Regions from separate parts of the Homo sapiens genome. Here all the other regions are linked to region 1. Evidence: fine-mapped QTL for protein levels in blood plasma. Region 1 holds a variant in brackets. A gene starts in each other region. All regions are shown on their reverse strands.

Evidence for each region. A credible set is the group of variants that fine-mapping cannot tell apart. PIP is the chance, under the fine-mapping model, that this variant and not a neighbour inherited with it causes the effect. Protein levels are from antibody-based Olink assays in UK Biobank. Linkage for the fine-mapping came from a reference panel and not from the study's own genotypes, which makes the PIPs less certain.
Region 2: QPCT starts here. The variant in region 1 is the best candidate, but not a certain one, in a credible set for the plasma level of the QPCT protein (UK Biobank, PIP 0.78).
Region 3: CD27 starts here. The variant in region 1 is the best candidate, but not a certain one, in a credible set for the plasma level of the CD27 protein (UK Biobank, PIP 0.78).

What each region holds. Positions count from the first base shown.
Region 1 is chr17:16,936,593-16,944,769 of GRCh38, reverse strand. TNFRSF13B (TNF receptor superfamily member 13B) reads left to right here. Exons shown (of 5, transcript NM_012452.3): 4 at 4,259-4,444; 5 at 4,973-5,689. The coding sequence ends at 5,223. Among named protein-coding and RNA genes, the nearest start is that of TNFRSF13B, 31 kb to the left of the region's middle. RefSeq lists enhancers at 1-265, 327-827, 828-1,328, 5,452-6,292, 7,090-7,590 and silencers at 5,557-5,606, 5,617-5,666. The variant C/T (reference allele first, on the strand shown) is at 5,093.
Region 2 is chr2:37,337,575-37,345,751 of GRCh38, reverse strand. QPCT (glutaminyl-peptide cyclotransferase) reads right to left here and starts at 1,122. Exons shown (of 7, transcript NM_012413.4): 1 at 901-1,122. The coding sequence starts at 1,020. LOC124907754 (a long non-coding RNA gene) reads left to right here and starts at 697. Exons shown (of 2, transcript XR_007086284.1): 1 at 697-2,025; 2 at 5,025-6,336. RefSeq lists a silencer at 692-751.
Region 3 is chr12:6,439,805-6,447,981 of GRCh38, reverse strand. It overlaps CD27 (CD27 molecule), which reads right to left and starts at 3,027. Exons shown (of 6, transcript NM_001242.5): 1 at 2,751-3,027; 2 at 2,427-2,558. The coding sequence starts at 2,886. It overlaps CD27-AS1 (CD27 antisense RNA 1), which reads left to right. Exons shown (of 6, transcript NR_015382.2): 4 at 895-1,021; 5 at 4,265-4,436. RefSeq lists enhancers at 1,747-1,866, 2,576-2,755, 2,786-2,845, 2,390-2,891, 3,796-3,845 and 1 more and silencers at 4,926-5,005, 5,106-5,245.

The DNA of each region.
Region 1 (8,177 bases):
TCCCATTCAGAACTGCCACTCCTTAGTGGGACCTGGAACTGTGGCAGGCTTGCTGTGCATGGGGAGTGGGGAGAATGAGGCAGTTCCTGTCCCAGACCCATGGAGCTCACTGTCTCGTGGAAGGCCAGGCAGTGGACAAGCCACGCAGATGACAAATTCCTCTCAGTGCACGGGAGCCACGTAACCCAGCTGCAGGTGACACGGGGACAAGGAAGGCTTCCCCGAGGAGGAGTCTTTAGGGCAGGCTGGGGTGCGGGTGTGGAGTGTGGAGCCAGACCCCTAGTTATGTCCCTCACAAGCTGTGTGACCTGGAGCAAGCTACCGACCCTCTCTGAGCCTTAGTTCTGTGAGGCTGGAGTTGTTCGCCTTCATAGAGCTGCTGTGAGGGTGATTTGGGAGAATATGTTTTTGGGGGAGCATGTGCTCTGTGCGCTGGAACTGCTCATTCAAAAAGCAACTATGTTGAAGCCACACGGTGGAGACAGGGTTCCAGACAGAGGCAACAGCATGTACAGGTGCTGCTAGGAGCAGAGAACTGTGCCGTTGGGAGGCTGTGAGGGGCTCTGTGCTGGAGGCTGGGATAAATCCCTTCCTCTCGGGCTCCCAGCCTGCAGGAGTGTGGTGGCCACTCCACAGAAGCAGGAGGGACCCCACCCCAGATCTGCTTTGAAGGTAGAGACTGACCGCTCCACATGCTCACCAAGAGAGCACAGAAAGCCCTGCTGCTCACACATGGCGCTTGGTGGGGAGAGGAGGGCAGGCTCCCAAGCTGGACTGAAAATGGCTTGAGATGTTGAGCAGGAGAGGAGACTGGCGTGGGGTTCTACTGCGACGACTCCAGGCCGACGCGAGGAGCTTCCTGCCCGGGCTCCGGGGCAGGTGCAGGGAGTGTGTGTGTCTCCCTGAGGGGAACAGGTGGCCCAGGCAGCCTGCCCTACTGGGTGGGGCTGCTCATCTGTCCGGCAGAAGACGAGGAAAAGCACCAAGGGCAGGACCCTGTCCCCCAACATGGGGGTTGCAGAGGACTGAGTTGGGAAGAGCAAGGATTCAGGGGCAGCTGGAGATGGCACTAGGAGGGACCAGATGCCAGATGACAGAGGGCCCTATGTGCCAGGCTGGGAGGCTGATGTCCTGCTGGGGGCAGGGGCAGCCATGGGAGAAGGGGGTCAGAGCAGGGCTGTGGGGAGAGCTCTCTGTTGCCCCTGGATGGTGGCGATAGCAGCAGGGGCCCTGTGAGAGGCTACTTCTGGCAATAATAGGAACCAGAGACCTGGGAGGGGGACAGAAGGACAGTGCATTGGCATGAGATTAGAACTGGAGGGAGAGGTGCTGGCATGTGATCAGCCATGGAACTGCTCAGCCTCTGTGTCCTGCAGACACTGGGGGTGCCCGTGACCCCTTCTGGGAATAAGGTCAGAACTAGGCCTCCTGGGCTTGTGGCTGCATCACTCCCATCTCTGCCTCTGTCTTCACATGGCTTCTCTCTCGTGCCTGTGTCTCTTCCCTTCTCTTCTTGTATAAGGACACTTGTCACTGGATCTGGACACTTGGCACCAGATCCTCATCTTCATGTTGTGACCCTGCGTGGCTCTGTGGGGAGGCAGGGTTCAGCTAGGCGGGTCTTCTGCTGCTCTTGCTTGGGGTCTGTCATGCAGATGGTGCTGGGGATAGAGCCATTGGAGGCTTGACTCTGATGCTGGGATATTCAGGCCTTGCTTCCCCTCCAGCTGATCTCAGGGCTTGCCCCTCTCCACTGGGACTCTCCAGTTGGACTTCTCGAGTGGTAGCTCAGGCCCAAGGGAGCAAACACCGAGGCTGTCAGGCCTTCTTGAGGCAGAGGCCTGGAGTGGCACAACCTCGCCCCCATGGCACTCTCCTGGATAGGATGAGGCCCAGTCCAGCCCAGAAGGTCCACAGGGCATGATGTCAGGTGACTGTGCTCTGGGTGTGGTCTCTGAACACTTGCATGGTCTCTGAAAGCTGGGTTTCAGAATCTTATGATGAAATGTTTGAAATATGCACAAATGTTTAGTTTTCCTCCTTGAATCAACGCCGTTCATTTCCGCTTAGTAACAACCTGTAGCCTGGCATTCTGTCTGTGCTCTGAGGGCTGGTAGCGTCTCCCCTGCTCATGCCTCCAGGGCAGTGTTTGCATTTGATTTGAGAGGTGAATAGGAGCAGGTAAGCCTTGGATATGTGGCACCAAGTTTGCAGGTCCTGGGGTCTTTGCTTTCCTCCGTTAGGCCTCTCTGAGCTCTGGGCACTGGACAGAAGGACAGCCACTGACTGGCGGAGTGACACGAACTCACCCCAAGTTCCCATCTCCCCCCTGTAAATGTCAGAGTGACACTGATGACCCCTAAGAGTCCTGGCAGCTCTGTCACTTTATGAGATTCCTGAATCTAAAAGCGTGTGTGAGGAAGACGGGCAGTGCCAGCCCTGGGGCCGCTGTGTGGCCCGCGGGCTTGGAGCACCGGCCTGGGAATTGGTGAGACCGGCTCCCGGGTGCAGGTCTAAGACCGAGAACAATATCTTAGACACTCAGTTTTGTCATCTGTAAAATGGAGTGTGAACGGCAGATGCTGTGCAACGCAGTCCAGCAGGTCCTCAAAAAACAAAACAGAGCTATTATGTGACCCAGCCATTCTTCTCCTAGGTATACACCCAAGAAAATGGAAAACATCCATCCACACAAACATGTGGATGTGAATGTTCACAGCAACGTCATTCACAATAGCCAGAAAGTGGAAGCAACCCAAATGCCCATTCCCTGTTGAATGCGTAAACAGATGTGGTCTGTCCATTCCGCCTAAAGAGAAACGAAGGTCTAATACACAGCACGGCAGGACATGGTGGACCTTGAAAACTCAAAGCCAAGTGCAAGGAGCCAGGCATAAAAGACCACGTGTTGTATGATTTCATTAATATGAAATGTCTGGAATAGGCAAATCCACAGAGACAGAAAAGAGATGAACAGTTGCCAGGGGCTGGGAAGAGGGAATGGGGAGTGACTGCTGATGAGACAGGGTTTCTGTTTGGTGATAAAAATTGTCTCCAATTAGACAGTTGCCATTGCTGCACAACCTTGTGATGTGCTAAAAGCCACTGGTTGTACACTTTAATACAGCAAATTTGATGGTATACAAATTCTCAGTATTTTTAATGGGGGTAGTTGTCTGCCATCAGAGCGGGAAGATGAAGGGGGTGCTGTAGGGGAAGTGCCCGGCACGAAGTGGGACTCGCTCTTCTTGACGTGTCATCTTAAATCTGGCTCATCTGTCTTTCCACCCAGCGCCTAGAGGATGCCCAGCTCCAGGGACAAGGAAGAGCTTTTGGGATAAGGAGAACTTCCAAGGGGAGGGCTTTCACCTGGGCTGAGTCTGTCTCTGGCATCCAAACCTGGAGGCACAAGTCCTGAGTCATAGGGTGGCCAGGTGCCCTGATGCCCAAAGCCCTCCTGGTTGGCACCTGCTGTCCTGGTCTCAGTGTAACGTCGCCTGTCCTACTCTCAAACACAGTGGGCCCTCTGTGTCGTGCGACCCATGTCTGTGGATTCAACCAACAGCAGCTGGAAAATACTCAGAAAAGATAGGGGATAGTTGCATCTGTACTGAACCTCTGCAGCCATTTTTTCTCATTGTTATCCCTAAACAATACAGTATAACACCCTTCTACATGGCATCTATATTGTATTTGGTATTATAAGTAATCTAGAGATGACTCTAATTGTATAGGAGGATGTGCATAGGTTATATGCAAATGCCAGGCCGTCTTGTATCAGGCACTTGGACATCCGCGGATTTTGGTATCTGTAGGGGATCCTGGAACCAGTCCCCCATGGATACCAAGGGACGACTGTAAACGCTCACTCAGGAAGCTTTCTCCTTGGAGGAAGGGCCCAGTTCAGGATGCACAGAGACATGCTCCCTGGAGCATCGTCTGTTCGTCTGTCGATTCACCCATCAGCCCATCTCCAGCGCTGTCCCAATTACAGCCCTAGCAAGTGGAGACAACAAGAAGGCCTAGCTCACGTTTCCAGCTTTGAGGCCTTAGAAAGTTGCTGCCAGGATGGGGGAGTGGATCAACTTCCTCCAGGATCCAGAGAGCATCCCAGCAGCCTCAGGGTCAGAAAAGGAGCCCAGCCTCTCCAGGAGCCAGACAGGCTCACAGCAGGGGGATGGGGGGATGTGGATTGCTTGAGCCTAATGACGGGAAGAGAAGAAGGCACTGCAGAGAGGGGTCTCATGCTGTCTTGCAGCTCTCCCGGGGCTGAAGCTGAGTGCAGATCAGGTGGCCCTGGTCTACAGCACGCTGGGGCTCTGCCTGTGTGCCGTCCTCTGCTGCTTCCTGGTGGCGGTGGCCTGCTTCCTCAAGAAGAGGGGGGATCCCTGCTCCTGCCAGCCCCGCTCAAGGCCCCGTCAAAGTCCGGCCAAGTCTTCCCAGGGTGAGTGCATGAAACTGGGGTCCTCGCCCTTCTCGCTGCTTGGGTGACAAGCCTCGGGCCATCCCTCGGTCCTGTCACTGCCCCTGCTTCTAGGTGGAGAGGCCCAGGGCTCATCCCTGTTACTTGCTATACCTTGATAAAATCAGGTTAAGACATCCTGGCAGACAGATAACTGGGAGAGTGGCACCCGGGAAGGGTGGGTGTGGGGTGCCGGTCTTCAGGTTTGCCTGGGCCCAGGATTCTCCAGATGCAGAGCCTTCAGGGCTAAGCCCAGGAGGAGGTGTCCCCTTGGGGGGCGTGGCAGGCTCGGTGCTGGACAGAAGTGAGAGCCAAGAATTGCCTGCCCACCCCTGCCCCGGCACAGGTTCTGGTCAGCAACTGGCGGACACTGACACCTGTCTGGGGGCGTTCTACGCTGGTGATTGCCCTTAGCTCCTGGGTCGGGGGAGAGTGCGGCTGCCCACACCGTCACCCCTACCCTAGTGCAGGGCCAGGCCTGGCCCACGCCCTCCACTCTCGCCTCTGCAGATCACGCGATGGAAGCCGGCAGCCCTGTGAGCACATCCCCCGAGCCAGTGGAGACCTGCAGCTTCTGCTTCCCTGAGTGCAGGGCGCCCACGCAGGAGAGCGCAGTCACGCCTGGGACCC[C/T]CGACCCCACTTGTGCTGGAAGGTGGGGGTGCCACACCAGGACCACAGTCCTGCAGCCTTGCCCACACATCCCAGACAGTGGCCTTGGCATTGTGTGTGTGCCTGCCCAGGAGGGGGGCCCAGGTGCATAAATGGGGGTCAGGGAGGGAAAGGAGGAGGGAGAGAGATGGAGAGGAGGGGAGAGAGAAAGAGAGGTGGGGAGAGGGGAGAGAGATATGAGGAGAGAGAGACAGAGGAGGCAGAGAGGGAGAGAAACAGAGGAGACAGAGAGGGAGAGAGAGACAGAGGGAGAGAGAGACAGAGGGGAAGAGAGGCAGAGAGGGAAAGAGGCAGAGAAGGAAAGAGACAGGCAGAGAAGGAGAGAGGCAGAGAGGGAGAGAGGCAGAGAGGGAGAGAGGCAGAGAGACAGAGAGGGAGAGAGGGACAGAGAGAGATAGAGCAGGAGGTCGGGGCACTCTGAGTCCCAGTTCCCAGTGCAGCTGTAGGTCGTCATCACCTAACCACACGTGCAATAAAGTCCTCGTGCCTGCTGCTCACAGCCCCCGAGAGCCCCTCCTCCTGGAGAATAAAACCTTTGGCAGCTGCCCTTCCTCACTGCATTGTGGTTGGGTCTTTGATGAACTGAGACATCTTGTCTATCACTTTCCTGGGCATCAGGCTCCACTGAACGCTGCCCCCTTGGTTTGGGAGGCCCTGTGGTGCCCCCATCTCACCAGGCTCTCGAGGAAGCTTGTGACCTTGGGTTGAGCCCTAAGCAGCCGGGTACCCACTGGGGCTCTGCTTCTCTCTTTCACTAAGAGAGAGAAAGAGACCAAAGAAAGGTCTGCAGGGAGGGTGCCTGTGCAAACACCCAGGGAACCAGGGGCTTGAGCCATCTTCATTTCCTTACAGACACACATTCCCTTCCATGCCTCCTTAGTAAGGGCATGACGCACAGTGTGTGTGTGTGTGTGTGTGTGTGTGTGTGCAGGTGTGTGCATGCATATGTGTGTGCATGTATGCGTGTGCATGTACGTATATGTGTGTGCGTGTGGATGTCTGTGCATGTATGTATGTATATGTGTGTGTGTTGTGGGGATGTGCAGTGGACAGGAAGGGGAGGGCAGCTGTAGCTGAAAGCTGCGAGTCTCTCTGGAAAAAACATCAAGATTCCCTGGACCACAGCAAGAGAATGTTTTCATTTGAGTCCACTTTTTGTTAGCATTTAAAGCTATATCTTGAGTAGCATGTAAACCTTAAGTAAACTATTCTTAGAAGCATTTTCACAGTAAGATAAATCCATAATAATGTACATTGAAATTATGCACCCTGCACCTCCTAAAATTATCTTGCAAACCTGCACCCACCAAAGGATCCCGTAGCGCACTTTGGGAGGTGTAGACAGGAAGCCTGGGGCTCCGTCGCTCATTCCATCTTTTCACCAGCTGTGGGCTACCACGCTGCATTGGTTTGCTTGGGCTTCCTTAAAGTACCACAGACTGGGCAGCTTCAGCAACAGAATCTCACTGTCTCACAGTCCTGCAGGCTGTAGGTCCAAGATCAAGGTGTCGGCAGGGAAGGTCCCTTTTCAGGGCGGTGCGGGAAGGCTCTGTTCCAGGCCTCTCTCCTGGCAGGTAGGTGGCCTTCCCGGTGTCTCTTCACCTCGTCTTCCCTCTGTGTGTCTCTGTCCACATTTCCTTTTCTTATAATAACGACACCAGTAGTTAGATTGGGGGCCCCCCTACTGACCTCATTTTTCATTTTAACTTATTTCTATAAGATGATATCTGTAAATAAGATCACATTCTCAAGCACTGGGGCTTAGGACATCAACACAGGAATTTCGGGGGACAAATTCAACCCATCACACAGGCCGTCCTCGAGGCCACCTCTGCGTCATCTTTGTCTACAGGCAAGTTGGCATCTAAAAAGTGTCTGCCCAAGACATGCGTCTGGCCCATGGTACAGCCAGTCCACACGGCCAATGGTGAGATCCGGGTGGCATTGTTTCCTCACCGCCATGCCTCACGCAAGCAGCTGCCTTCTTACAACAAGGTGGACACAAATCCCAGAACTGGCGCAGACGCTTGCTGGCTGTGGGTGAAGTAGCCCCACGTCAGCGTCCTGCAAATATGCGGCTTAGAATGTTACGGCTTGTGTGAAAGATATGCAGATTTCTATTCCTTCCGATCCATGGTTTCAAGTTCTGCTCGTCTGAACCCAAGGGGCTCTGTAGGTGCCTCTGGAACAGCCGGGGTTTTAGGGGTGTTGAAAACACAAGGTACCCAGGCTCAACCCCAGCTTCAATCACACAAATAATCTTGTGGTGGTGTTTCTTTGGTCAGTTTTTAAAATTGATCTTTTGTACTCTTTTTTTTTTTTAGAAAGGGATCCTTTGGTAGAAAGAAAATCTGAAACTCTAAATACTGTCCATTTTATCTATGTATTGTTGGTCCTTTCCCCAAAATATATCCTGATTCCAGCCACTTGTCATGATAGTTTTAATCTGAGCTCTCATCGTTTTTCACCTGGATTACTGTACCAGCCTCCCCACTGGCCTCCCCGCTGCCACCTGGCCCCTCCCCAGGGCTCAGCAAGATTTTTCTGCAAAGGACCTGGTAGTAAGCATCTTGGGCTTCGTGGACCCTGTGGTCTTTGTTGCACCTACTCAGCAGTTACTCAGCTTCGCCACTGCAGCCCTAAGTAGCCACAGACAAGAAGTGAACACAGGGGAGGAACTGTGGCTCCAATAAACCTTTATTCACCATGACAGGAGGGGACTGCATCTGGATTGTGGGCCATAGTTTGCCAACCCCTGCCTGACTTCATGGCAACACTGAAATTCGTATTTATGCTTCTTAAAAACATGTCTAAGCCAAGTGCAGTGGCTCATCCCTGTAATCCCAACACTTCCAGCTGAGCCTGGAGGATTGCTTGGGGACAGGAGGTCCAGATCAGCCTGGGTAACACAGCAGGATCCCATTTCTACAACAAACCATTTCAAAAGCAGCCAGGCATGGGGGCCCACACATGTAGTCCCAGCTACTCAGGAGACTGAGGTGGGAGGATTGCTTGAGCCTGGGAAGTCAAGGCTGTATAGTGAGCT
Region 2 (8,177 bases), not on the chromosome of region 1:
CCATTCTCCTGCCTCAGCCTCCCGAGTAGCTGGGATTACAGGTGCGTGCCACCACGCCCGGCTGATTTTTTGTATTTTTTAGTAGAGACAGGGTTTCACCATGTTAGCCCTGATGGTCTCGATCTCCTGACCTCGTGATCCACCCGCCTCGGCCTCCCAAAGTGCTGGGATTACAGGCGTGAGCCACCCCGCCCGGCCGAACCCATACACTTCTTACAGAGGGAACTTGCAAATCACTTTTATCCTAAGTTCCTTATATGCGATTTCTACCTACAACTAGATCCATTTTCTCTGAAAATAGCAGGTACCCTCTTTTAAGTGGAGGAAAAAGGCTTTTGAAGTAAGCAGGTCTCCAGTAAAGGTCCTTCCTGCCGAGTTGCTCCTTTTAAAAATCTAAAACAAACAACACACATCCGTCCTGAGACTGTAGGGACACTTCAGCGCCCCAGCAGCATCCTTGGATGAAGCAGCGGGGGGGCTGTGGGCACACCCCCAGGCGCACCCCGCACCCTAGCGGCCCCGGAGCGCCGGCCCCGTTGCCCTCCAGGGTCCCGAGTGGGGGGTGGCGCCGCGATGCGCCCTCGCCTCCCGGCTCAGCAGCCGCCGGCGAGACACATTTCCTGTGCCTATCAGCACCCCCATCAGACCGCAGCCCAGGAGAGGCCAGTGACATCACCCAGCCCCCCTGGCGTCTCCAGAACAGCCCCGGACTGGCCGAGGCACCCCGGCGAGTATGCAGAGCCCCGACTCCTCCGGGCGCCGGGTGGGGCGCCGGTGCCTGGGCTGGGGACCGTGGCCCTGCCCCGCCTCCCGCTCTGCCTAGGTAGGGCTGACCCGGCCAGGGGTCCTCGCATCGGACCAGAGCCGCTCAAGTACAACTACGCAGAAACAGCCCCTCACCTTCTCCTCTGGCCAGGCTGAGGCACTCGGACTGACCCCCCTGGATGCCCAGGGCAGGGCGGCCACCAGCAGCAGCAGGTGGAGGGTGCCCACGACGCGCCGGTGTCTTCCGCCTGCCATCTCTCCGAGTCTGTCTGGGAGCGGGTTCCCCGGGCCGCTGGCGGTCACGAGCCCGGGAACGCGCGTCCTTCGCCTTCCCTCTTCTCCACCCTTGGGTCGACTGCGCCCGCCTTCCCATCGCCCCCGGGTAGCCTCCCGCCGCGTCGCGCAGGCTGCAGCCCTCCTACCCCGGACCTTCGCAAACCCCGGGGCTGGGCGGCCCTGGGTGACAGACACAAGCTTCTGAACCCAAGCTAACAAAGGCGGCCACTTCCTTCTCTTGGAGAAGATGAAAGGAAGGAAGCAAGAGACATGGAAGAGCCTTTTTATGATCTCCAATGCCAAAACAGGGAACAGAAAAGGGAGGAAGGGTTCACCAGACCCTGGGGAGTTATGAAGTGTTTCCCACAGCTCCTAAAGAAGGGGTGGACAGGGAATCGACGTCTGCTGAACACGGCACCAGGCACCGTCCTAGGTGCTTGTCCAACCTTCCCGGATTTAATCCACTAATCCCATTTTACAGACGGGGAGACTGAGACACCCCCCCACCCCCCATAGAAAGCCTGGACTGGAACCCACAAGCAAAAGTATGACAGTGGATCTTTGCCTTTTCTCTTTTTTCTCACAAATAGTTGCCTTGCCTCACATCATACTCTCAAATTGAAAAGGATGGTCAAAGTAATTATCTGAAATAATGAGATCTACAATATTCACAGCGGCTCTGAAGGAGTCATCTTCTCCAAGGCATGGCCCCAAAAGGAAAAGCCAAACACAATTCTATTTACTTTGTAACATCAAAGGTCATTGTTATCCAGATAATCCTAGGGCAGGAAAACATTTCAGTTTTGTCTGTAGGTTTCTGGTCCAAGTTGTCAGGACAGTGACTTTCACCAGCCTCTTTTGCTTCCACAGTGAGGATCAGGGCTTGGCCTGCTCTGAGTCATCTCCCAGTAACATCTAGTTCCCAGAAAAATCAGAACAAGGATACTGAAGCAGAACCATTTCACAGAGAGCAAAGATTTGAAGGTAAGGAAGCTGCCAGAAGGCCCACCCACTCACTCTGTCTTCCCAGCCTTGGCTATGAGTTTTTAAAGAGAGGGCTTGCCTGGAAATACACTGTTCTGCCCTCCTCTGGAGCTGTAGGAGAAGACAGGATGTAAATAACTCCTTTCCTGGTGTACAGATTTGCTAACCCTATTCATGTCTGAGAGTTTTGAGTGACAATTTAAATCTCCAGGCTTAAATAAAATTAAATACACCTTTATTAAACCCACAGACAGTTCTGATCATCGGACCCCCTTCAGAACTTTCTACTGGCTCCAGTTTCAGAACTAAACCACTGTCACATTCCCCAATACAGCTCCTCTCTTGCTGCCTGGGTCAACCTTGAAATAGTGCATTTCCTGAGTGGCTGGGTAATAAAGAGCCTATTTGCTTTTTTTTACCCTATTACCTTTATGTCTTTTCACAATATGGTTCCTATAAGAAAGAGAACGTGGAAATAGCAAACCTAAATGAAACAAAATGTGAGAGGTACTATCATGCTAAGTATGAGCAATTCAAAACAAGAAATATAGAAATAAGCTAAAATGTCAGCACATAACGTAATGATGATTTTGTTTCCTAAGTTTCTCCAATTTTGGTTATATTTAAGTCAATAAGATGTTCTTACAGTTTGGTATCTACAGGAAGCAGACTCTGAGACAAGAGTTTAACATGCAGGATGTGTATTAGGGAGTGCCCTTGGGACAAACCCCTGTGGGAGGAAGAAGGGGAACAGGAGAGAACAGAGGGAGAAGTTAGCAGCAAAGCGGGCCCAACAACCTCACCCAACTCCATGGGAGTCCTGAAGCTGAAAAAGACGGTCAAAGTTGTCCCATACTGGGCCAAAATGTCTGGGGCCTTATCTCTGCACCTCCATGGAGTGATTTCCTGCAAGCGGCTTTCCAGCCAAAAGAGCTTGACTGCTAGAGGCTGTGGGCCAGCCGGCCTCCAACAGCTGGAGCAGGGTCCTTCCCTGGGGGCAGATCTGGGCAGCGCATCTCCTGTATCCACCACAAACGTATTGTATCTGGTACAAATCTAAAACATTCCACATAGCTAGTGAGACTGATTTCAATACATTGGTTTTTTTTTTACATGTAAGCTTTTCTGCCAACTTTCCAAGAATCTACAAATCCAACACCACTATGTATGTATCACTTCATTCCTTATGCATATCTTTTCTAGTGTCTTACACACTAAATACCCTTTTCCTTTCCTTCGCTCATTCTTTTCTCTCTTCCTTCATTTGGGAAACGTTTAGAAATACCTTATATCTGCTATTTTTGCCCTACTTCAACTTTTCCTTTCTTCAAACTCTTCCCATGGAAGATAACTAATGACTTTTCCATTTTAATTAAAGTTTCAGACCCTGTTTTTCATCATGGAAAAAATGTGTTGTATATACAGTGATAACACTGTTCTCAAGTGGAGAAATTTTTACCTCCATTATAGTATAGATTCCATACTGTGATGTGAAGGAAATGAAGGACCCAATTGCCAAAACAGATCTTCTCCATGAAGCTGCCATGGCAGGATGTTCCTACACCCAGTCCCACCTTTAAAGTGGCGCCATTAGATCAAAGTAGTAATGACCAGAAGGTTCTATTAAAACAATAGTTTTCAAAAGTGTGGTCCATGGATACTGGGGATTCCCCAAGACCCTCTTGGCTGTCTCCAAAGTCAAATCAACTTTTATAATAATACCAAAACAAGATTCATTTTTTCTACTGTATAGACTTTGCACTGATGTTGCAAAAGCAATGATGGGTAAAAATGCTGGCACCTTAGCAACTGTCAATACAGGACACAAAACTGTACTATTGAGGAGGAAAATCTATACTTGTAGTCATTGTGTTTTTCTTTCTTTCTTTCTTTTTGGAAGGAGTTTCACTCTTATTTCCCAGGCTAGAGTGCCATGGTGCCATCTCGGCTCACTACAACCTCTGCCTCCCAGGTTCAAGCGATTCTCCTATCTCAGCCTCCTGAGGAGATGGGATTACAGGCATGCACCACCATACCCTGCTAATTTTTGTATTTTTAGTAGAGACAGGGTTTCACCATGTTGGTCAGACTGGTCTCGAACTCCTGACCTCAGGTGATCTACCTGCCTCGGCCTCCCAAAGTGCTGGGATTGCAGACGTAAGCCACCATACCCAGCCATCTTAGTATTTTTCACTGCCACGCATAAAGAAAAAAAAAAAGAAGAGGACGATAAAAGAAAAGAAAAAGAGCCAGTTTCACTTAAGAATGTCATTGATGAAGTAATAAAATTGTTGTTTTACTGCCTTCTGAAGCTGTCTCTCCATGAAGCTAGATTTTAAATCTAGCAGGACAGAGTACAGGAGGAGAGAGAGCTCCTCACGTCTGCGTTTTCATCTCATGGAGACCACCAGCTCTGTGTGGACTCCTCCTACCTGCACTGCATCCTGGAAACTCTCAAAGCAGTAAGCTGGAGAAAACATCAGGCTCATCTCATTTCATTTTCCCTTTTCTCACCACTTTCCTGTGATACCTCTTTTCCAATATTTAAGCATCATTTTAAAAATTTTTATACACTTAGAGAGTACAGGAGCAGTTTTGGTACATGGATATACTGCATAGTGGACAAGTCTGGGCTTTTAGTGTAAGCATCACCTGAAAACATAGTATACATTTACCCATCAGGTAATTTCTCATCCCTCCTACCCTCCCACCCTTCCAAGTCTCCAATGTCTATTATTCAGCTCTTCATGTCATTGTGTACACATTATTTAGCTTCCACTTATAAGTGAGAACATGTGCTAGTTGAGCTGTTTCACTAAAGATAATGGCCTCCAGTTCCATCCATGTTGTTACAAAAGACAAAATTTTGTTATTTTTAATTGCTGGTAGTATTCCAGGGTGTGTGTGTGTGTGTGCGTGTGTGTGTGTGTGTGTGTGTGTGTGTGTGTGACGTTTTCTTTATCCAATCCATTGTGAATGTCATTTTTAATATATTTTAGGTGGGATGACAAATCCAGTTCCATCTTAACTGGAAGCACAAATTGAGAGTATGCAGCTCTTTATACTCACATGGGAAAATAAGACGTAGAAATCAAACACTTCTGCTGCACACCAAAGGGCAATTGTCTCAAAGAAAAGCATTTGTACCGTTGTTTCAGAAGTATAGTGGGCCGCAGTGGCTCACATCTGTAATCCCAACATTTTGGGAGGACAAAGCAGGTGGATCACTTGAGGTTAGGAGTTCAAGACCAGCCTGGCCAACAGGATAAAACCCCCATCTCTACTAAAAATACAAAAATTAGCTGGGAATGGTGGCAGGTGCCTGTAGTCACAGCTACTCCAGAGACTGAGGAAGGAGAATCACTTGAACCTGGGAAACAGAGTTTGCAGTGAGCAGAGATCACACCACTGCACTCCAGCCTGTGTGACAGAGAGAGACAGTCTCAAAAAAAGAAAAAGAGAGAGAGAGAGAAGCATAGTGAACTTGCTACTTTTTTCATGAAATTCCAATTTAATTGAAAGAACAATGACTGATAAATTATGATTATTCAGACTTGGATATTTGGCAGACATTTGAAGATGAATAAAGTGCGCCTATCCCTTGAAGGAAAATAACTGACACTGTTTGTTGCCAGTGATAAAACTGGATCTTTGCAGTAAAAATTGGAATTTTGGATAACTTGTATCTGCTACCATAAGCTTGATAGTTTCCTGATATGCAACAACTTTTATGACAAAATTGGTGATTTTAACAAATGTGATTATTTATTATATATAATGAAATGCTCAACATTTGGAATATCTGCATAACTCAGTGAAGCAATATTTTCCAAATGTTCAATTCATCATGTTACAAAGTCACAAAGAAAAGTTCCACTCAAAGTATAAGAGACACCCAGTGGATTTTAATGTAATGGAATAAAAACATGTATTTAGAAGCAGATTTTAAGTTGTACCTTTTATGACACTATCATTTGTTATGTTTTGATTTAATAATGAAGGAGATTATCCACAGTTATCTGAAGAGGCTATTAAAATACTCTTCCTTTTTCCTACTACATGTCCGTGTGGGGTCAAATTTTCTTCATGTACTTCAGCCAAAATAATATATCACAACAGGTGGAATGCATAAGCAAATATGGGAATCCAGTTGTCATCTAAAAAGTCAGAAATTAAAGAGATTTTTTTAAATGCCAATCTTCTCACTAAACTCTTTTTACTTTGGAAAATGTATTTTTTCATAAAACATGTGTCTTTAGATGCAATGACTTTATTCTTTTAAAATAAATCCATAATTAAGTATTTGTAAAATGCCTGTTCTAATTTTCAATACAATAAATATTGATAGACATGGTCCACATAAATGAAAGCTATTTGTGGTCCTCAATTACTGTTACTAATGCAAGGAGTTCTGAGACCAAAACATTAGAGAATCACTATGTTAAAACCATTCTACTTGAGAGAGACAGATGATAATACATTAAACCAATGCTTACAACTGTAGCTACACATGGAAATTATCTAGAAAGCCTTTTTTAGAAAATGGTGATGTCTGACTTCCACCCCCAGAGATTCTGATATGATTAGCCTGGTGTGTGGTCTGGGCGTCAGATCGCTTAAAAGCTCCCCAGGTGATTCTAACGTGCAGCCACGGCTGAGAATCATTGCATGAAGTCACACACTTTGAGAAATACATCAGCAAAAATCATATAATCAGATTAACTATAACATTAATAGTCATGTTGCATTGTAGTTATTTCATAAGGCCCTGAGGATAATAGCAAAAAAGATTGGGAAAGTGGCCCAGCCTTAGACAAATTATGAAGTAGGCAGCTTAAATTCAAACCCCCCAACTTTCTGGCCCCATGCAAGTCTAGTACTGAAGCACCCTGCCTTTTGTTCCTTTAATAGTCACAGAATGTAAAGAGTCCTACATTATATTCTTGTTTGAATCTGTCCGCCACCTCTTTCGATAGCAGAGTGAAAAATTAAAATATTTGCCTCTGCAGTCCAGTGTCAGATTTTTAGTGTTCCTTAGAAATCTCAGGAATCCAGATTTCCTGTAAATATTCCCAACTTCTTTCACCAGATCAGAGGTCGGGTGAAGGTGGCAATAAAAGCTAGGAGAAAAAAAACGTTCCTCTTCTTTGGTTTTCTGGCCTTCTCACTTCCCAGTCCTATTAAATAACATGCGCTGTCCTCTCGAAGAAGGACAGAGGAACAGTCCCCATAAACCCTGATTCCTTTCACAAACACTAATTATGCCCCTCAAACAAAATTCCTTTTATCCATTTAATAATTTATCATACTTTTGATCAGTTTTTCTCTGAGAGCTCTGAAAACCAAAAGTGTTCAAGGTCCAAAGAAATGAATCTCTAGTAAGAAATTTCAGTGCACTCAAGGAGATGAGAAGTAGAATCAAAGATGAAGAGAGTGGAGGTCACCTGGTGACCGTCAAGCCAGCCATCCAGAGGAAAAAACTCCTCGTCTGAGGAATTTAGAAGTAATTAGACTTCCCTGTTATCTAAAGCGGGCATCTGGTTCCAGGCTTCTTTCTCAAAAATTTATAAGTAACTAGAATTTCCATACATCTGCAGAATGTATGTATGTTGAAACTCATTGTGCAACACTTGCTGACATCAAGGCACCAAAATGCCTACAAATTTAACCATTTATCATGACCTATGTGGCTAATAGGGTCCAAATTACCATTAAACTCCCGCTTTAAGGTTCATAAACACGCCTAAGGGAAAATCCACCACAATTCCTCCCTTGCTGAGGTGCCCTGCTGCATTCTTTTGCAGCTTTCTTTCTATCTAGTAAAACTTTCCTTTTCAAACCTATACTGTTGTCAGTAAATTCTTCTCACCAATCTGCAAGTCAACCACCTTCCAATGCCGGAGCTCTGGCACCTAGCCCAGCAAAAGACAAAGACTCACACACAAAATTCATTCTTTACAGCTCACAGAATAGACAGCACTGATCTACACAGTACCTAAACTGCCTATGATGTGAAGTTACAAACAACTGATCGTTACAGGAAGCATCCATGCATATAATGTTTAAGTCTGTATATTTATAGAGGCATACATGTTGACATTTTATTCAAAAAATTTCATCTATGTTTAATTTTTCCATCTTGTGGGATCAGA
Region 3 (8,177 bases), not on the chromosome of region 1:
GCAGGAGGGGAGAGCACTGGTGGTAGAGAGGAGTGATGACAAGGGTCTCCGCCAAAAGGGAAATGGAGGGGTTAAAGAAGCTGCTGGGGAGGGTTAAAAACAATGTGTTCTCACTCGTAGGTGGGAATTGAACAATGAGAACACTTGGACACAGGAAGGGGAACATCACACACTGGGGCCTGTCGTGGGGTGTGGGGAGGGAGGAGGGATAGCATTAGGAGATATACCTAATGTAAATGATGAGTTAATGGGTGCAGCACACCAACATGGCACATGTATACCTATGTAACAAACCTGCACATTGTGTACATGTACCCTAGAACTTAAAGTATAATTAAAAAACAAAACAAAACAAAACAAAAACAATGAGGTGCTATTGTTTTAGTGGTGAGTATCCGGAGACCTGGGAGTTCTATTTACCAGGTATAACCTGGGCTCAAAATTCCAGGCTGACTTCAGGCATGTCCTCATCTCATAGATGCCAGCACTAAGGCCCAGAGAGGGCCGAGCTCATTCAGCCCACCCATCTTCTCACCCCTGACTGCATTTCCCGGGGGTCCTTCTGCAGCCAGGTGCTGCTGTGGTACTTTGGGATCTATTGGCTGAGCTCCCAGAGAAGGGTCATGGATTGGGCTAGTTTGGAACAAGTGAAGGGACTGAAGATGGGCTCAGTATGGGGCGAAGACCTTCAGGAAGGGTCTGCAGAGTGAGTAGGGGGGTTTTGACTAGGAAAAGTTCCAACCCTGCCGGGGCCGCTGTCAAGAGAAAAGCATCTATTACAGTTACATTTTTAAGTTAAGTAGACTGAAGAATATTTCTTGTGTATTAAAGACGTTCCTTTTTGGTTGATTTGCAATGGAAAAGCTTTTGTTTTCTTTTTTTTTTTGGAAACAGGGTCTCACTCTGCTCACTCTGTCTCCCAAGCTGGAGTGCAGTGGTACAGTCACGGCTCACTGCAGCCTCCACTTCCTGGACTCAAGTGATCTTCTCACTTCAGCCTTCTGAGTAGCTGGGACTACAGGTTCGTGCCACCACGCCTGGCTAACTTTTTGTATTTTTAGTAGAGACAGGGTTTTGCCATGTTGCCCAGGGTGTTCTTAAACTCCTGGGCTCAAGGGATCCGCCTGCCTTGGCCTCCTAAAGTGCTGGGATTACAAGTGTGAGCCACTGCTCTGGCTTTTTGTGTGTGTGTGTGTGTGTGTGTGAAAAAGGGTTTTGCTCTGTTACCCAGGCTGGAGTGCAGTGATGTGAGCAGCCTGGACCTCTTGGGGACCTCTTGGGCTCAAGTGATCTTCCCATCTCAGCCTCCCAAGTAGCTGGGACTGCAGGTGCACTACCATGACCAGCCAATTTTTTTAGAGACAAGGTCTCACTATGTTGCCCAGCTGGTCTCAAGCTCCTGGGCTCAAGTCTCTACAAAATATGCAAATACCCTTCTGCCTTGGCCTCCCAAGTGCTGGGATTATAGGCATGAGCCACCACATCTGGTGTTGGTTTTTGTTTTTGTTTTTACGGGACCAGGCACTACAGCTCACACCTGTAATCCTGGCACTTTCAGAGGCTGAGACTAGAAGATTGCTTGAGCCCAGGAGTTCAAGGCTGTGGGGAGCTATGATTGCACCACTGCACTCCAGCCTGGGTGACAGAGCTAGACCTTGTCTCTAAACTAAACAAAACAAAACCCAGTACCAAGAGACCCAGTGACACCAAACACGTTTTGCAAGTAGGTAGTTTAATAGTTACAGTTACCTGGTTCTAAAAAGTGTCTTGCTAGAGAACATTTGTTCAAAGGGGCCACTTTAAAGCCTGCTATTCTAGTGTATACTGGCCGTAGTTTCTGAAATTGTAGCGAAGATGGAGAAATAATAACAGCATTCATAAGCACAACTGCAGATATTATACTTCTTAGTTTAAAAAAAACCTTTTTTTTTGGAACTATAAAATAAAAACACAGGCTACATACATACTCATTTTCTCAAATTGGCTTTTGTGCAAAAAAAGGTTGTTACCTATTGGGTTGCTTTGTTATTTCCTTAGAAAGATGTATTCCAAATTCCCAATGGCCAACCTGCACATGTGCACTCTGGGAACACAGTCAGTTTATTGGTTGGGGGTTGCTTGCCCGAAATCTGGGGTCATAGAGCCACTTCTCTCATTTTATTGTCTTGATCCTATCCATAGACCCGTTCTCACCAATCCCTCAAATTCTATTTATCCCTTTCCTGGAATACTAGATGTCTGCCCACGTTAATTCATGCCCCACCTAGGGTGCCGCATTTCCCAGCATTGGCTCCACTTGCTGTGAGCCTTGAAGAAGGCCAAAGCTTTGGCCCCGTCATCCTCCTTGCACCCCCAAACCCGTCACCAGCCTTGCTCCCCCAGATGCTTGTCCATCGTCCCCACCTACACACCCTTGCCCACCTCACCAGAGTTACAGTGCCGACAGCTCTCACAGTGGGGCCGGGTGTGGTGGTCAGGAGAGAAGGAGACCCCCGGTATGCAAGGATCACACTGAGCAGCCTTTCTATGCTGGTCACAGTCCTTCACGAGGAATGTTCCTGGGAGGAGAGGGTAAGGGATCAAGGCCTGAGAAGGGCTGGTTCTCTGCCCTCTTCAAGGTGGTGCCTCCCCACAGCTGCAGGATTTCCCTCCTTGCTTGAGCTCAGTCTCACCCTGCGCCTATTTACTGTATTAACCCCAGTCCTCTCTCTTTCGCCACTCACCTGGCCCTTACCAAGGCCCCCTCTTACCTGGCTCACACATCTGGCAGCACAGCTTTCCCTGAGCCCAGTAGTGCCTCTCTGGGCAGCTCTTGGGGGCTGGAGTAGCTGAGAGCCCCACCAGGGTCCCCAGAACGCACAGCCACCAGGGATGTGGCCGTGCCATGGTCCCTGCCCAGGCGGCTCCTTTCTGTGCCCAGTTGCTGATGCTGGCCTCTGGAGTTAGCACCTCCAAGCTGGGCGCTGCTGTCTCTTCTTTGCACCCCCTGGGCAGTGGCTGCTTCAGGTGGCAAGCCAACCTTTGAAGGCAGAATCTCTATTGTGGCTGTTTTTTTTTTCTCTCTCATAGCAGCAACCTCCACCCCCTTCCCCTTCCGTGTGCTGGGGAGAGTATTAAAGAGCAAACTCTGTGAGACCTGCTGCTCTTCAAACATGCTTCCTCCAACACATGAGCCTTCCTTAGTTTCCGCCTCTCCTGCTCATGAAGCACGTAGCCCACTGACTCCTGCTTCTTTGACAAAAAGGTGATGGACACACAGTTGCTCACCCCTCCTATTCATGCACTTGTGCACAAAGGTGCCCACGTTACCCCCCCCCACCCACCCCCCCGTCCACAGTTTACAGACGAATTCGCAGGACTCCTGTCTCCCATACCTGCATCCCTCCTTTCACAGACAACAGTTGAAAGAAGGAAGGAGAACCAGAATTGAGCACAGGTCCACAAGCTCTTATCTGAAACTTTGGGGGTCAGATAAGTTTTGGAATTCAGAATTTTTCAGGTTTATACAGAAACCAGCACCACAAAACACCCTTGGGGAGTTGGGGTAGTCTCATAATCAAACGCAACATTTCTGCAGCAAAACTATTGAATATTTACACCAACTGGGAGGAAGCTTAAATAGCCTTGTCTCAATTGAGGTCTGGTTTGATGGCCAAACGAGTTTGCTACAGAATGCTCAGAATTGCAAGCAAGGGGTGTAGAGCTGCCTCTCTTCTGTCACACTCTGACCGATCACCTATGCTCTCCTTTAATCCTCATGTCAGTCTCTGATGTGGGTGCCACCTACTGCCCACATGGCCTTCCCTCTCAGACCCTTGCTCACTCCTCACTTTTGTGCCATCTTTATCCTCCCCTTTCCCACCTCTGGCTGTGTCAGTCACTGGTGTCCTGGATCGCCTGGAGCATCTTCTCTCCTAGCCTTGGGCACTTGGGATTAAAGGTAGCTTCCTACGGGGGTCATCTCTTTTTTATTTTCCCAGTTCTCCCAGCAAGACTGATTTCGGGATATTGGAAACAGCTAGACTTTTCCCTCTTTGAGTCATGGGGACACACACGGGTCAACAGCCTCCTCCACTCTTTCCTCAGCAACCGATATGTGGAGTGGCTTATTTCCCCAGGAAGTTTTTAATTTAGGGGCTTTGCCGTTGTTTCCACACTGTTCATAAATGTCACACTGCTGTGGTCACACCTGTCAGATCTGTTCTCTATCTCACTCTGTAGTTTCCTTTCTCCTCATTTTCTCCATTCTCTTGTCTTTTCCCAGCCCCCTCTGCAGCTCTTCATGGGGGTCCACTCAAGTCAGAAGCCACATTTGGGTGTGATTCAGAGAGCTGTTTATGCAAAACCAGCTTTGTCACCATCAGGCAAGGCACCTGAATTCCCACCGCAGAGAGTGTTGTGGCCGTGAGGACTTTTCTGTCACCAGCCATTTCCAGGTTGTGGTAAATGTGTTCACTGCAGGCATGGGGCAGTGGGGTGGCTAGCTGACTGCAGGCCCTGGGAGGGTGGATGAGACCCTCAGAAGAATCATGAGGAACTGGGGACCTTTAGGAAGAAACTTGTCGAACAGGGACTTGCAGTTCGCTGAGCCTAGCAACCTTGAACCGACTGGGAACTGCTCACTAGCCTAACGCTGCTGTCCTCTGGGCCAAAGCCCATCTCCTCTTTTCTACATATCACTTCTCCAGGGGGTCAGAGCAGGAGCAGGGTCTGCCTGGCTTTCCTGGAGGGCCTCGGCCAAGAGGAGGAAGGCCAGGTTTCTGGACGTTTTTCTTTCCTAGGCAAATAGAATGAGCTCATCTCCAGCACTCTTTGCATCCACTTCTGGTGAGCCTTCCCCATCCTAGGCTGGCTCCCTGGACGGGACCTTCCTTTTTTTTTTTTTTCCTCCCTCCATTTCACTCTGTCACCCAGGCTAGAGTGCAATGATGCAATCTCAGCTCACTGCAACCTCTGTCTCCCAGGCTCAAGCCATTCTCACGCCTCAGCCTCCTGAGTAACTGGGATGACAGGTGCGTGCCACCACGCTCAGCTAATTTTTGTATTTTTAGTAGAGATGGAGTTTTGCCACGTTGGTCAGGCTGGCCTCAAGTTGATCCGCCCACCTTGGCTGGGATTACAGGGGAGAGCCACCGCGCCCAGCTTATTTTTTGTATTTTTAGTAGAGATGGGGTTTTGTCATGTTGGCCAGGCTGGACCAGAACACCTAGCCTCAGGTGATCTGCCTGCCTCGGCCTCCCAAAGTGCTGGGATTACAGGCACGAGCCACCATGCCTGGCTGGGCCCTTCCTTTTGTCTAGAGGCCCTGGGATGCAGCCCGCTGACATCTTCCTTGAAATCTCACACAACCACTTTCTCTTTTGGGGTCAGCCTCTCCCCCATGCCTGGCTGGGGCATAAAAACATATGGTATTTTCTCAACAGCTCCCTGCTTTTCTTTCCTTTCCAGAAACAGGCCCACAGCAGCCCTTCTTGAGAACTCTGAGGACTCTCATGACTTTTTTTGGTTCTTTTTTTTTTTTTTTTTTTTGAGAAAGGGTCTCTCACTGTTGCCCAGGCTGGAGTGCAGTGGCATGATCTCAGCTCACTGCAACCTTTGCCTCCCAGGTTCAAGCGATTCTTATACATCAGCCTCCCAAGTAGCTGGGATTATAGGCACCGGCCACCATACCCGGCTAATTTTTTGTATTTTTAGTAGAGACGGGGTTTCACTATGTTGGCCAGGCTGGTCTCAAACTCCTGGCCTCAAGTGATCTGCCCTCCTCGGCCTCCCAAAGTGTTGGGATTACAAGCGTGAGCCACTGTGCCTGGCCTCTCATGACTTTTGAGAGGGCCTGACCAACCCTCCACCTGGCCCAGTGACTGTAGCCTAGATGTCAGCCAGGGGCACCCTGCTCCTTAAAATCTAGATAAGATGCTCTTTGCTTCCCACTCAGGGCAAGTCCTGGGCAGGCTGTCCACCTGCATGAGTTCCAGTAGGTTGGGTGTTCTTGTGGCTGCCTCTGGCTCTGATTTCTCTTTCAGCTAAAGTCTTGTTCTTGCCTCCGTGTCTCCTGTCTGTTCCCTTACCTGTACCCTGCCTCAGGCCCAAATTGTTGGACACAAGACTTGCTTAAAGTTTCCTCTAAACCAGCTCTAAACAGAAGGCTGTTAGGTGTGGCAGACTTTGTCTTTTTTCTCCAATTTTTATGAATCAATAACCTGTTAAAGCGCTCAGCAGGACCAGTCTCTGCAAGACCTTTCCTTAGGAGGAAGTTCTGTTATGGGACAAAGATGTCCGCAATCACTGTTCCTGACTTAGGCTTCCTGAGTCTCATCACCTGAAGCTCTGAGTTTGTCTGGCCCTCTTTGTCCCCTGCTCCCCATTGCTTCCTCCCCGACTCCCACTTTCTTCGATGACCACCACCAGCACTGCTGCCCCCACCACCTTAAAGCCTCCTTCCCAGCAAGGCTTTGAGAGGCCACCTGGTCAGGACAGTGAGTTAAGCTCATTAATGAGGTTCTGGGTCCTCGCAGCTCTGTAATTTTCATTTCTGCACCTCCCCAGTCTGGGTGACACAGGAGACTGACCAACTATGGGTATTTCCAGCCTCTGCCCACTCCTCAGAAGCCCAGCACAGCTCCCAGTGTCTCCTAGCACGTAAGGCACTGGCTAAACATTGGATGGTCCAGCTCAGCTTTGTGCTGTAGCGGCTCTGTCCACAATTATAAAATGGAAACGTCAGAGGGCTCAAGGCCCCTTAGACCTCCTCATTCATTTGACAAGCGTTTTTTGCACATTCATTTTGTGTTAGGAACCAGCCAAGTAATGGGGCACAAAGATGAAAAACAAACAGACAAATATGTGGTTTCTGCCCTGACGGAGTTGACACACCAGTGTGAGAGTCAGACATCGATCATATAATCTCAAAGACAAATGTAAAATTGGCCAGGTGAGGCGGCTCACACCTGGAATCCCAGTCACGTTGGGAGGCCGAGGCGGAAGGATTGCTTGAGCCTAGGAGTTTAAGACCAGCCTGGGCAACAGAGTGACACCCCGTCTCTACACATAATAAAAATAAATTAACTGGGTGTGGTGGCACGTGCCTGTGGTCCCAGCCACTCGGAAGGCTGAGGTGGGAGGATCACTTGAGCCCAGGGGGTCGAGGTTGCAGTGAGCCATGATCATGCCAGTGCACTCAAGCCTGGGAGATAGAGCAAGACCTCATCTCACAAAACCCAAAAAACAAAACAAAATTAAAATTAGTTAGTAATGGTCATTATTGCTATGAAGGAGAGAGTTGGGGTGCAATATAGGTGTCTATACCCCTAATAGGGGGATTTAAGGGGTAGGGAGTGCCTCATCCAGGAAGCAAAGTTTAACAGAGATATGTGGGATCTGGCAGCTCTCCACCTACATGAGAATTATTACTTCCCTTGGTTTCTGTGACACGATTCTATTTTCCTTGCTTTGACCACTTGTTTTTTAAGTGCTATTTTTTATTTTTTTATATACAGATTATATACAATAGGGATAATCTGTTCCTTGAAAGCCTGGTAGAACTTGATTTGCTTGTGTGTAGCTGTTTCACTGTTATTATTATTATTTTTTTTAGGCTGTCTTGCTCTGTTGCCCAGGCTGGAGTGCAGTGGCATGATCTTGGCTCACTGCAACCTCCTCCTCCTGAGGTCAAGTGATTCTCCTGCCTCAGCCTCCTTAGTAGCTGGGATTACAGGTGTGCGCCACCACACCTGGCTAATTTTTGTATTGTTAGTAGAGACGTGGTTTCACCATGTTGGTCAGGCTTGTCTCGAACTCTTGAGCTCAAGTGATCCACCTACCTTGGCCTCTCAAAGTGCTGGGATTACAGATGTGAGCCACTGCACCCGGCATACTTTGCCATTCTTTTTCTAATGTATTGGATGCTTAATTAATTTAGAAATTTCTTATTTTCTAATATATGCATTTAAGGCTATAAACTTCCCTTGAAGATCTACTTTAGCTACATCTCATCAGCTTTGCTATATTGTTTTTTTCATTATTGTTGATTTGCTTTTCCCGTTATTATTTATTTTTACCTATATTTCATTTATAAATGCATTACAAATTTTCCAGATCTGTGGGGCTTAACTTTTTGTTGTTTATTATTTTAATTTTAAATTTATTGTGGCCCGAGCACTCTGTCTGTGTAGCATGGC